Regions from separate parts of the Homo sapiens genome. Here region 1 is linked to region 2. The links come from fine-mapping of genetic effects on gene expression. Tissue or cell type: blood mononuclear cells. Region 2 holds a variant in brackets; the other region holds the start of a gene. All regions are shown on one strand. Distances are from middle to middle.

Region 1 (5,517 bases), 55 kb after region 2:
TTGGGAGGCTGAGGCACGAGAATTGCTTGAAGCCAGGAGGTGGAGGTTGCAGTGAGCCGAGATTGCACCACTGCACTCCAGCCGGGGTGACAGAGCGAGACTCTGTCTCAGAAACAAAACAAAACAAAAAAACAATACTAGCCATCAACAACCACACATAACCAACTACCATTAGCAACCACAGAAAGCAGCAGTCACCAGTCCTATCCTGTTCAAAACCCAACATTGAACCAGCACCACCATTGCTGATCATCATCTTACCAGAAACCAACAATAAACTACCAGCAGCAAATGAACGCTACTACCAACACCTTTCCTCTCCAAATAACAGCAACCACCGATGGTCATCATTCCACTGGTCACCAAGCATCTCCAGAATTTCCAGCTGAAAACAATCCACCACCAACGAACAACATTAAACACCAACCGCCACCACCACCAGCCCACCTGCAAGAGCCATTATCACCACGAACCTGCAACAAGAAACAGCCACAACCACCACCACAACCAATGACACCAACAACCCAGCAATGACCACTCGCAGCAACTCCTCCCCAATTACCACAATCGTCACCTCCGTCCATCCTCATTGCTGAATCCAGAAATGAATGGACATCCCAGCTAATGGCAGCTACCATGGATCAAGTGCATGTTATGTGCTCTGTAAAGCAATGGTCCCCAACATTTTTGGCACCAGAGACCGGTTTAATGGAAGACAATTTTTCCATGGACCATGGAGCGGGGCATTAGATTTTCTTTTCTTTCTTTTCCTTTATTTCTTCTTTTTTCCCTTTCTTTCTTTCTTTCTTTCTTTCTTTCTTTCTTTCTTTCTTTCTTTCTCTCTCTCTCTCTCTCTCTTTCTTTCTTTCTTTCTTTCTTTCTTTCTTTCTTTCTTTCTTTCTTTCCTTTCTTTCTCTTTCTTCTTTCTCTCTTTCTTTCTTTCTTCCTTTCTCTTTCTCTCTTTCTTTCTTTTTCTTTCTCTTTCTTTCTTTCTTTTTCTTTCTTTCTTTCTCTCTCTCTTTCTTTTTTTTTTGAGATGGAGCCTCTCTCTGTGGCCCAGGCTGGAGTGCAGTGGCGTGATCTCGTCTCATTGCGACCTCTGCCTCCTGGGTTCAAGTGATTCTCCTATCTCAGGTTCCCGGGTAGCTGGGGTTACAGGCGCGCACCACCACGACTGGCTAATTTTTGTATTTTTAGTAGAGACAGGGTTTTGCCATGTTGGCCAGGCTGGTCTTGAACTCTTGACCTCAGGTGATCCGCCCACCTCGGCCTCCAAAAGTGTTGAGATTACAGGCATGAGCCACTGCACCCTGCCAACGGCATTAGATTTTCTTTTTCTTTTTTTTTTTTTTTTGAGACGGAGTCTGGCTCTGTCGCCGAGGCTGTAGTGCAATGGTGTGATCTTGGCTCACTGCAACCTCCGCCTCCCGGGTTCAAGCGATTCTCCTGCCTCAGCCTCCCGAGTAGCTAGGATGACAGGCATGTGCCACCACACCCAGCTCATTTTTGTATTTTTAGGAGAGACGGGGTCTCACCACGTTGGCCAGGATCGTTTCTATCTCTTGACTTCGTGATCTGCCCGCCTCGGCCTCCCAAAGTGCTAGGATTACAGGTGTGAGCCACCGCACCCGGCCGGGCATTAGATTGTCATAAGCAGCATGCAACCTGGATCCCTCGTGTGTGCAGTTCACAACAGGGTTTGCGATCCTGTGATAATCTAATGGCGCCCCCGAGAATCTGAGAGGAGGTGGAGCTCGGGCTTGCTTGCCTGCCACTCATCTCCTGCTCTGTGACCCGATAGGGCTCATGGTTTCTAACAGACAGACCATGGCCCGATAGCAGTCCATGACCCCGGGGGTTGGGGACCCTGTTGTAAAGGACTTCAGAAATACTGTTTCATTGAATCCTTCAGCGATCTTCCTGGCATTCACCACTCCTCCAGGAAGATTTCAGCATCCCCAGACAGAGGTGGGTGTCATTTTTTTCTCTTCTATCATCCTCTGCGATACGGGTGGCCCCTCCCAGACCTTGTCTGCCAAGCCGACTGTTGACTAAGCATTTTCAGAGGGCTTCCTTGGGGAGGGGTTGCCTTTCTTTCAAGTAGCAAATCACTTCCTGTGTTCTTTTGATCAAAGCCCTGCCCATCCCAGGACCTGAGCCTCCCTGGCTTGCTTCTCATCTTGGAAGAATTCCCACCCCAACAGTCTCAGAGCTCCAGCTGATGGTTTGGGTGTGAATTCCGGGATGCCCAATTTCTCATCAGCTTTCCTTTTTTGAGACGGAGTGTGCTCTGTCACCCAGGCTGGAGTGCAGCGGCAGGATCTCAGCTCACTGCACCCTCCGCCTCCTGGGTTCAAGTTATTCTCTTGCCTCAGCCTCATATGTAGCTGGGATTACAGGCGTGTGCCACCACGCCCAGTTAATTTTTTGTATTTTTTAGTAGAGACGAGGTTTCACCACGTTGGCCAGGCTGGTCTCGAACACCTGACCTCAAGTGATCTACCTGTCTCAGCCTCCTAAAATGCTGGGATTACAGGCATGAGCCACTGTCCCTGGCCCTCACTGGCTTCCTGAAAGAAGGTGTTGTCTCTCAGACTAACACCACCTCTGCCTCTTGCCCTATGTCCCTGACTCCACCCTAGTAAGCTGTACCTGCCAAGAATCCTGCAGTGGCCGCTGTCACAGCCACATGCTCTCATCCTCACTGACTGAATGACGAGAAATGAAAGCTGAAGTGGTCTACACAGCAGAGAGCTGTGGGGTGGGGTCAGCCCTGGCCACCTCTTACTTTGCGTCTTATGGTGGTACGATACTGCTAGGAATAGCGCCATGATCACGACAGTCTCCCCGTTGCTATCATCGACAGACCTCAGACTTGACAGGCAGCAACACCTCTGGCTGCCATCCTCCTCTTGGGATAAGGGATGCCCACCAAAGGGTGGCATGGACGTATTCAGCCTCTCCTGCCTCTGCTGCAGCCATACCGCCCGTCACCGGCACAGGGAGGGCGTCAATCCACCCCATCGCTTGTTAGACATAGCTTCCCATCTCAGCCGAGGACTCTGTGGCAGAACCCACAGACCTTGAGAATGTTGCAACTGAAAGACCCCTGAAGAGCAACTTCCGCATCTAGACGGATTTCCAAATATGACATCTGTGGGAACCGGGGCCAAGAGAGGGGAAGTGACTAGCCCAAGGCTACACAGGGAGACGAGAGACTGGGCTGGACTGGGAAAGGGCTCCCTTAATTTGCAAGCAAAGGAGGCTATGTCCTTGTCCCTGCAGACTCTGTGATTCTCCCTGGGCCACCTTCTGTCTTCCAGGTCCTGCCCTATCCTTGGATCCAGGGATACCACCCTGGCATCCCCACCACCTACAGATGGGAGCTTGCTCCCTGGTAAGGGATGCTGGAGGCACCTGAGCTGCACTGAGAGACACCCCACCCCCACAGAAGTCCACCATGCCCCTCCCCTCACCCCAATTTCTGATGGTCATTTTTAGGACACCTCCACCTGGCTGGTGTCCCTCCTCTTTCTTCTTCCAGATCCCACCCTTGAAGGACTTACCATGGTGGGGGGCTGGTGTCTGGGCTCCTGGAGGCTCCTGAATGGGTCGTGATGGAGGTGCAGGTTCAGGGGGATCTTGGGGGTGGCTTGGGCATGGCCCTGCTTCTGCCCGTTCACCGGACTCCCGGCTTTAGTTCCTCTTACAACAGCCCCTTCTCACTTCCTTTGGCGGGAGGGGCCGAGGCCATGGGGGAGGGAAGCTGGGTGTGGAGGGGGGCGGGGAGCTGGCTGTTTGGGGCTCTGAGCCTGAAGGGAGGGGTCAGAACTTGATGGCAGCCACTACTGGACCTCAGAGGCCTCTTCCCCAACTCCTTGGGGACAGGGCTGCTGCAGGAACATTTGGGTCAGCTGGCTGCAGGACGAACCACCTCTTTTCAGGGCGATTCAGGAAGCATTTGGGCTTCCCGGGTCTCTTTTTAAAACCAAGGAAGGGGCCCAGGGGAGGTGGCTCACGCCTGTAATCCCAATACTTTGGGGGGCCAAGGTTGGAGGATCGCTTGAGTCCAGGAGTTTGAGACCAGCCTGGGCTATATAGCATGACCCCATCTCTACAAAAAATGAAAAGAAAAAAAATTAGCTGGGCATGGTGGCATGAGCCTGCAGTCCCAGCTACTCAGAGGGCTGAGGTGGGAGGATTGCTTGAACCTGGGAGGTGGAGGCCTCAGTGAGCCCTGATTGCGCCACTGCACTCCAGCCTGGGCGAAAGAGTGAGACCCTGTCTCTAAAAACAAACCAGAAAAAACAAAAAAACCAAAAAAACAACAACAACAGGGAAGGGTGCCTTCTTCAGCTGTGTCTGCTCTGGGCATCCCTGGGCAACCTCCTTCATTATTATTATTGTTATTATTTTGAGACGGAGTCTAGCTCTGTCACCCAGGCTAGAATGCAGTGGTGCAATCTCAGCTTACTTTAATCTCCGCCTCCTGGGTTCAAGCGATTCTCCTGCCTCAGCCTCCTGAGTAGCTGGGATTACAGGTGCCCACCGCCACACCTGGCTAATATTTGTATTTTTAGTAGAGACGGAATTTCGCCATGTTGGCCAGGCCGGCCTTGAACTCCTGACCTCAGGTGATCCTCCCAACTCGGCCTCCCAAAGTGCTGGGATTACAGGCATAAGCCACCACGCCTGGCCCAACCTCCCTCTTTAGATGACCCTCAGAAGTCACACGTGTTTGTGTGCAGAAGTGGAGGGTACTGGGAAGCAGGTGCATCTGAAAGGTCCCTGACTTTGGATGTCACATCTAGATTTAACAGCCTCCAGTTTGGCTACTTCCTGGATGACTTAGTTACTCCCTTTTCTCATTGTAAAATGGGAACGTGGGTCCCCCCAGCAGAGCCTGGCCCAGGTACGTGTCAGCCTATGAGCTGGTCTTTGGGACACCAGCCAACCACCTGAGGCTCCTCTTGACATGTGAGGAAATGGCAGTTCTAATAGGTTGTTACTTCCCCACACCACCCAGCAAGGAGGTGGCCGAGGCAGGACCCGACCCTGGGAGACCCTGGGGGACCCATGTTCAGATCTATCTTTGGTCCAGGGCGATAAACCCGCATCCCCCTTGAAGATGTTAATATGCAGCGCCCCTAGTGGCCACAGCTGGGAAGGAGCCCGTCTCTGCTGGAATCTCCTGAGCGAGTTTGCAGAATTGACGGGCTTGGGGCATGCAATTCTCAGCAATGTCTCCAGGCACTCAAGAGTGAATATGAATGGGTAAGAGGACCCCACTTTGTTGGGGGCCATCAGGGGAGGCTTCTAGGAAGAGGCAACGTTTGTGCTGACACCGGCGAGTAAGCTGGAGTTAAAAAAGGTAAAGGGGCAGGAGCGTGCACCTGGCCATGCTAAGCGCTCAAGCAAAGGCCCAGATATGGGAAAACCATAGGGCAATTGAGGAAGTTCGGGGAGGCTGGTGTGGCTGGAGCATGCGGAGTGACGGAGAGTGTGATGGCCAGGGTG
Region 2 (5,621 bases):
CTGCCCACCTCAGCTTCCCAAAGCCCTGGGATTACAGGCGTGAGCCACCGTGCCCGGCTGCTAGTCTTGCTTTGATTCCTGGCTCTACTGGGGATTCCCGATGCCCCATTCTTCCGTTGGGTAGGTATTCTGTGCCCGCAGTTCGCTCATCACAGCTTAGATCACTCTGTGCAGTGCTTGTCAACCAAATCTGCTGAGACCGACCCTCTCCCACCTTCCTGGCTCCTGCTGCAACGCCCATTCCACCTCTGAATTCCCCTCGCTTCTGTGGGCCAGTCCTCACCTCACCAGTCAGCCCCATCTCTACTGGACTGGCTTCTCTTTGAGGGGCTGAGCACAGAGCGGGTGTCCATATTAGAAAGCTACAATTAATTATTATTATTATTATTATTATTATTATTTTTAGAGAGAGACAGGGTTAGCTCTGTTGCCCAGGCTGGAGTACAATGTTGTAATCAGCTCACTGCAGCCTCGACCTGCTGGGCTCAAGTGATCCTCCCATCTCAGCCTCCTGAGTATCTGGGAATACAGGCATGACACTAGCTTTTTTTTTTTTTGAGATGGAGTCTCACTCTGTCACCCAGGCTGGGGTGCAGTGGCGCCATCTCGGCTCACTGCAACCTCCGCCTCCCAGGTTCAAGCAATTCTGCTGCCTCAGCCTCCCGAGTAGCTGGGACCACGGGCGCGCACCATCACGCCCGGCTAATTTTTTGTATTTTTAGCAGAGATGGGGTTTCACTGTGTTAGCCAGGATGGTCTCGATCTCCTGACCTTATGATCTGCCCGCCTTGGCCTCCCAAAGTGCTGGGATTACAAGTGTGACCCACCGTGCCCGGCCAATTTTAAAATTTTTTTGTAGAGACAGGGTATTAGTAGGTTGCCTAGGGTGGTCAAACCTTAAGTGATCCTCCTGCCTTGGCCTCCCAAAGTGCTGGGATTACAGCTGTGAGGCACCATGCTTGGCCAGGATTTGGTTTATTTTAGTATTAGAGACAGGGTCTTGCTGAGTTGCCCAGGCTGGAGTGCAGTGACGCGATCATAGCTCACTTCAGCCTTGAACTCCCGGGATCAAGTGATCCTCCAGCCTCGGCCTCACAAAGTGCTGGGACTACAGGCATGCACCACCACTCCCAAAATTCAGGAATTTTTTTTTTTTTTTGAGACAGAGTCTCACTCTATTGCTCAGACTGGAATTCCATGGTGCAGTCTTGGCTCACTGCAGCCTCCACCTCCTGCCTCAGCCTCTCAAGTATCAGGGACTACAGGCACGTGCCACCATGCCCAGCTAATTTTTGTATTTTTAGTAGAGACAGGGTTTCACCATGTTGGTGAGGCTGGTCTGGAACTCCTGACCTCAGATGATCCGCCCGCCTTGGCCTCCCAAAGTGCTGGGATTACAGGCATGAGCCACTGCGCCCAGCCCAAAATTCAGGATCTTTAGGCTCAGACCATAGCAGGACTCCAGTCTTAGTCCCAGTTAGGTGAAGACTAAGAGGGCACAGAAATGGGATTGGGGTGCAGGGGGCAGGAGTGACCCAGAGTGCATTGAGGGTGGGAGCATGTGGCATGTGGGACCTGCCTCTCTCCATAGGTCCCAGATGGGTTTGGCGGCTGTAGCTTCAAGACTAACAGGACCTGCTGGACCATTTGGGATGCAGATTTTGGAAGGGAAACTGAGACAAATTCTTT[A/C]TTTTCTTTTCTTTCTTTTTTTTTTTTTTGAGATGGAGTCTCGCTCTGTTGCCCAGGCTGGAGGGCAGTGGCGCAATCTCGGCTCACTGCAAGCTCCTTCTCCCAGGTTCATGCCATTTTCCTGCCTCAGCCTCCCGAGCAGCTGGGACTACAGGCGCCCGCCACCACGCCCGGCTACTTTTTTGTATTTTTAGTAGAGACAAGGTTTCCCCATGTTAGCCAGGATGGTCTCGATCTCCTGACCTTGTGATCTGCCCGCCTCGGCCTCCCAAAGTGCTAGGATTACAGGTGTGAGGCACCGCGCCCACCTCCTCCCTCCCTCCCTCCCTTCCTTCCTTTCTTTTTTTCTGAGACAGGGTCTTGCTCTGTTGCCCAGGCTGGAGTGCAGTGGCATGATCTCGGCTCACGGCAGCCTCTGCCTCCCGGGTTCAAGTGATTCTCCTGCTTCAGCCTTCCCAGTAGCTGGGATTACAGGCAGGCACCACCACACCCGGCTTTTTTTTTTTTCTTTTTTAAATTTTTAGTAGAAACAGGGTTTTGCTGTGTTATCCAGGCTGGTCTTGAACTCCTGGTCTCACGTGATCTGCCCGCCTCAGCCTCCCAAAGTGCTGGGATTACAGGCGTGAGCCACTGCGCCCAGCCCAAACTGGGACAAATTCAAGCTTTATGGTCACATATGAATGCAAGGCATGGCTCTGTGCAGTCTTGGGTCAGTGAACCTCTCTGAACCTCCATTGTTCCACCTGTAAGATGGGGTCCTTCACAGCTCCTACCTCACAGGGCTGTGAAAACATCGTCCTTGTTGGGCACTTAGTAAGTTAACTCGTGCTTTCACCTGGCAAAGGTTTATTGCCTTAGTGATGACAGAATGAGCAAAGTCACGCTTGTTAAGGACCCCCCCCTCCCCAACTGTGCCTGGCACTTTGCCAACAGCACAGGACTCAAGACCCATTTCTTAATCACATGGCAGTTGGGAGGTAGATTCTGCTGTTAGTCCCCTTTGACACACACAGAAATGGAGAATGGGCAGCAGGTGTGATGTTGGAGGAAGACCAGGGCCCAGGGGCGGGGGCTGCAGCAGTGACCTGGTGACCCAGGGCCTGGGCAGGACTGGAGGCCAAAGGACTGGACTTTTAGGCTATTGCAGCCCAGGTAAACGAGGCTCTCATTGGCAGGGCCTGGCTCCCCACCAGGCCGGCAGGCAGATAGGCGGGCGAAAGAGAAGGCAGTATCCCAGGGCCCAGCTCAGATCTTCTCCACGTAGTTTCCTGGGAAAAGGCCCTCCTGGCCGTGAAGCCGGCCCTTCCACCAGCCCGAGGGATCTGTGGGAGAGAGGAAAGCTTGAGGTGCCCCTAGCTGGCCCTGGAGAAAGCTCTCATGCCTGGTCTGTCCATCTTGTTCATGGGGACTCCCTATGTTGTCCAGGCTGGTCTTAAACTCCTAGGCTTAAGCCATCCTCCTGCCTCAGCCTCCCAAAGTGCTGGAATTACAGGTGTGAGCCACTGCATCCGGCCATTTCTACTCTTTAAAAGTTTTTTTTTTGTAAATCTTTTGTAGAGATGGGGTCTTGCTAGGTTGCCCAGGCTTGTCTCAAACTCCTGACCTCAAGTGATCCTCCTGCCTCAGCCACTGAAAGTGCTGGGATTACAGGTATGAGCCACCTCGCCCATCTGTTATCTCTGTTCTCCCGTGGGGAGGGTGTGCAGTGGTGGGGTCTGCCTGGCAATGTCAGTCAGGGTTCTTTTTTTTTTTTTTTTTGAGACGGAGTCTCGCTCTATCGCCCAGGCTGGAGTGTGTTGGCGCAATCTCGGCTCACTGCAAGCTCCGCCTCCCGGGTTCATGCCATTCTCCTGCCTCAGCCTCCCGAGTAGCTGGGACTACAGGCGCCCGCCACCACGCCCGGCTAATTTTTTGTATTTTTAGTAGAGACGGGGTTTCACTGTGTTAGCCAGGATGGTCTCGATCTCCTGACCTCGTGATCTGCCCGCCTTGGCCTCCCAAAATGCTGGGATTACAGGCGTGAGCCACCGCGCCCGGCCGATGTCAGGGTTCTTACCACTCCCCTCACCCCAGCTTCTGCCCTGGTACACACACCTTCCATGAGGATCTCAATGACCTCGTTCACGTTGAAGCTCAGCTCGTCCACATCTTGGCCCACGTACTGGTATAGGGCCCGGCACCTGGGACCATGTGTCCGAGGCTGGGGCTTGGGTCGGCCCACACCAGGCACTGGCCGTTGCCCCACGCTGCGCTTCCTCTGCATGCTGTGGGCACAGGGGGTTTGAGTCACAGCCCCAGACACTCCCCTACCCCCTGCCCACCTCCTGGAGCTGCCCTCCCACCCCACCTACCCGGCCATGCCCTGGTCAGGCACGTTGAGGAATTCTGTGTTGTGCTCTGAGGGCGGACGTGCCCGGGGTCGTCTGCTGGCTCCCAGGGATGTGGACGGAGGGCCCCGGGGAGGCCTGTGGGTGCCCCCTCCAGACATGATCTCCAGGGGCAGGGGGCCCCCTCTGGCAGAGGGGGGCACCCCATTGCGATCCATGCCTGTGGCAGGAGCAAGGATGAAGACATGTATTAGGGTGATGCTAGGAGGATTTGAGGAGGACTTGGCTTCAAGTTCTCAGGCTGAGGGAGGAGACTGCGACACTCTCAACCCAGTGTGGTAAGGATTGGGCCAGACGGAGGGACTCTGCCGCTAGGAGGGCCTAGACAGAAGCTTTTTTAAGCATAATTTTAAAATTATTTTTTACTTTTTTTTTTTTTTGAGATGGAGTCTTGCTCAGTCGCTCAGGCTGGAGTGCAGTGGCGCGATCTCGGCTCACTGCAAGCTCCGCCTCCTGGGTTCACGCCATTCTCCTGCCTCAGCCTCCCGAGTAGCTGGGACTACAGGCACCTGCCACCACGCCTGGATAATTTTTTAAATATTTTTAGTAGAGACGGAGTTTCATCATGTTAGCCAGGATGGTCTCGATCTCCTGACCTTGTGATCCGCCCGCCTTGGCCTCCCAAAGTGCTGGGATTACAGGCATGAGCCACCGCGCCTGGCCAATTATTTTTTACTTTTATTTGTTTATTTTGAGACATGGTCTCACTCTCGCCCAGGTTGGAGTGCAGTGGTACAATCGTAGCTCACTGCAACTCTGACCTCCTGGGCTCAAGCAATCCTCCCTCCTTAGCCTCCTTTTAAGGGGAGCTGGGACTACAGGTATGCTCCACTATGCCCAGTTGATTTTTATAATTTTTAAAGTAGAGATGGGGTCTCACTATGTTGCTCAGGCTGGTCTCAAACTCCTGGCCTCAAGCAATCCTCCCACTTCGGCCTCCCAACATGCTGGTTTTACAGGCATGAGCCACTGTACTTGGCCTTATTTATTTTTTATTTGTTTAGAGACAGGGTTTTGCTCTGTGGCCCAGGATGGAGTGCAGCAGTGAGATCATAGCTCACTGCAGACTCCAACTCTTAGGCTCATGATATTCTCCCCTCTCAGCCTCCTAAATAGCTGGGACTATAGGCACACACCACCATGCCCAGCTAATTTAAAAAGAATTTTTAGGCTAGGCGCGGTGGCTCACGCCTGTAATCCTAGCACTTTGGGAGGCTAAGGTGGGCTGATCACGAGGTCTGGAGTTTGAGACAAGCCTGGCCAACATAGTGAAACTCTGCCTCTACTAAAAATACAAAAATTAGCCAGGCATGATGGCGTGTGCCTGTAGTCCCAGCTACTCGGGAGGCTGAGGCAGGAGAATTGCTTCAACCTGGGAGGTGGAGGTTACAGTGAGCCAAGATCACGCCACTGCACTCCAGCCTGGGCAACAGAGCAAGACACCGTCTCAAAAAAAAAAAAAAAAAAAAGGCCGGGCGCGGTGGCTCACACCTGTAATCCCAGCAGTTTGGGAGGCCGAGGCGGGTGGATCACGAGGTCAGGAGT

What was found. PIP is the estimated chance that this variant, and not a neighbour inherited with it, causes the effect.
Region 1: MYO1F starts here. The variant in region 2 is fine-mapped to the expression of MYO1F in blood mononuclear cells (TOPMed, PIP above 0.99).

The regions. Positions count from the first base shown.
Region 1 is chr19:8,573,741-8,579,257 of GRCh38, forward strand. MYO1F (myosin IF) reads right to left here and starts at 3,702. Exons shown (of 28, transcript NM_012335.4): 1 at 3,567-3,702. The coding sequence starts at 3,569. RefSeq lists enhancers at 2,147-2,206, 2,547-2,606, 2,777-2,956 and silencers at 3,077-3,126, 3,664-3,813, 5,034-5,228.
Region 2 is chr19:8,518,594-8,524,214 of GRCh38, forward strand. MYO1F (myosin IF) reads right to left here. Exons shown (of 28, transcript NM_012335.4): 26 at 4,041-4,236; 27 at 3,784-3,953; 28 at 2,185-3,011. The coding sequence ends at 2,935. Among named protein-coding and RNA genes, the nearest start is that of ZNF414, 7.2 kb to the left of the region's middle. RefSeq lists an enhancer at 4,084-4,583. The variant A/C (reference allele first, on the strand shown) is at 1,690.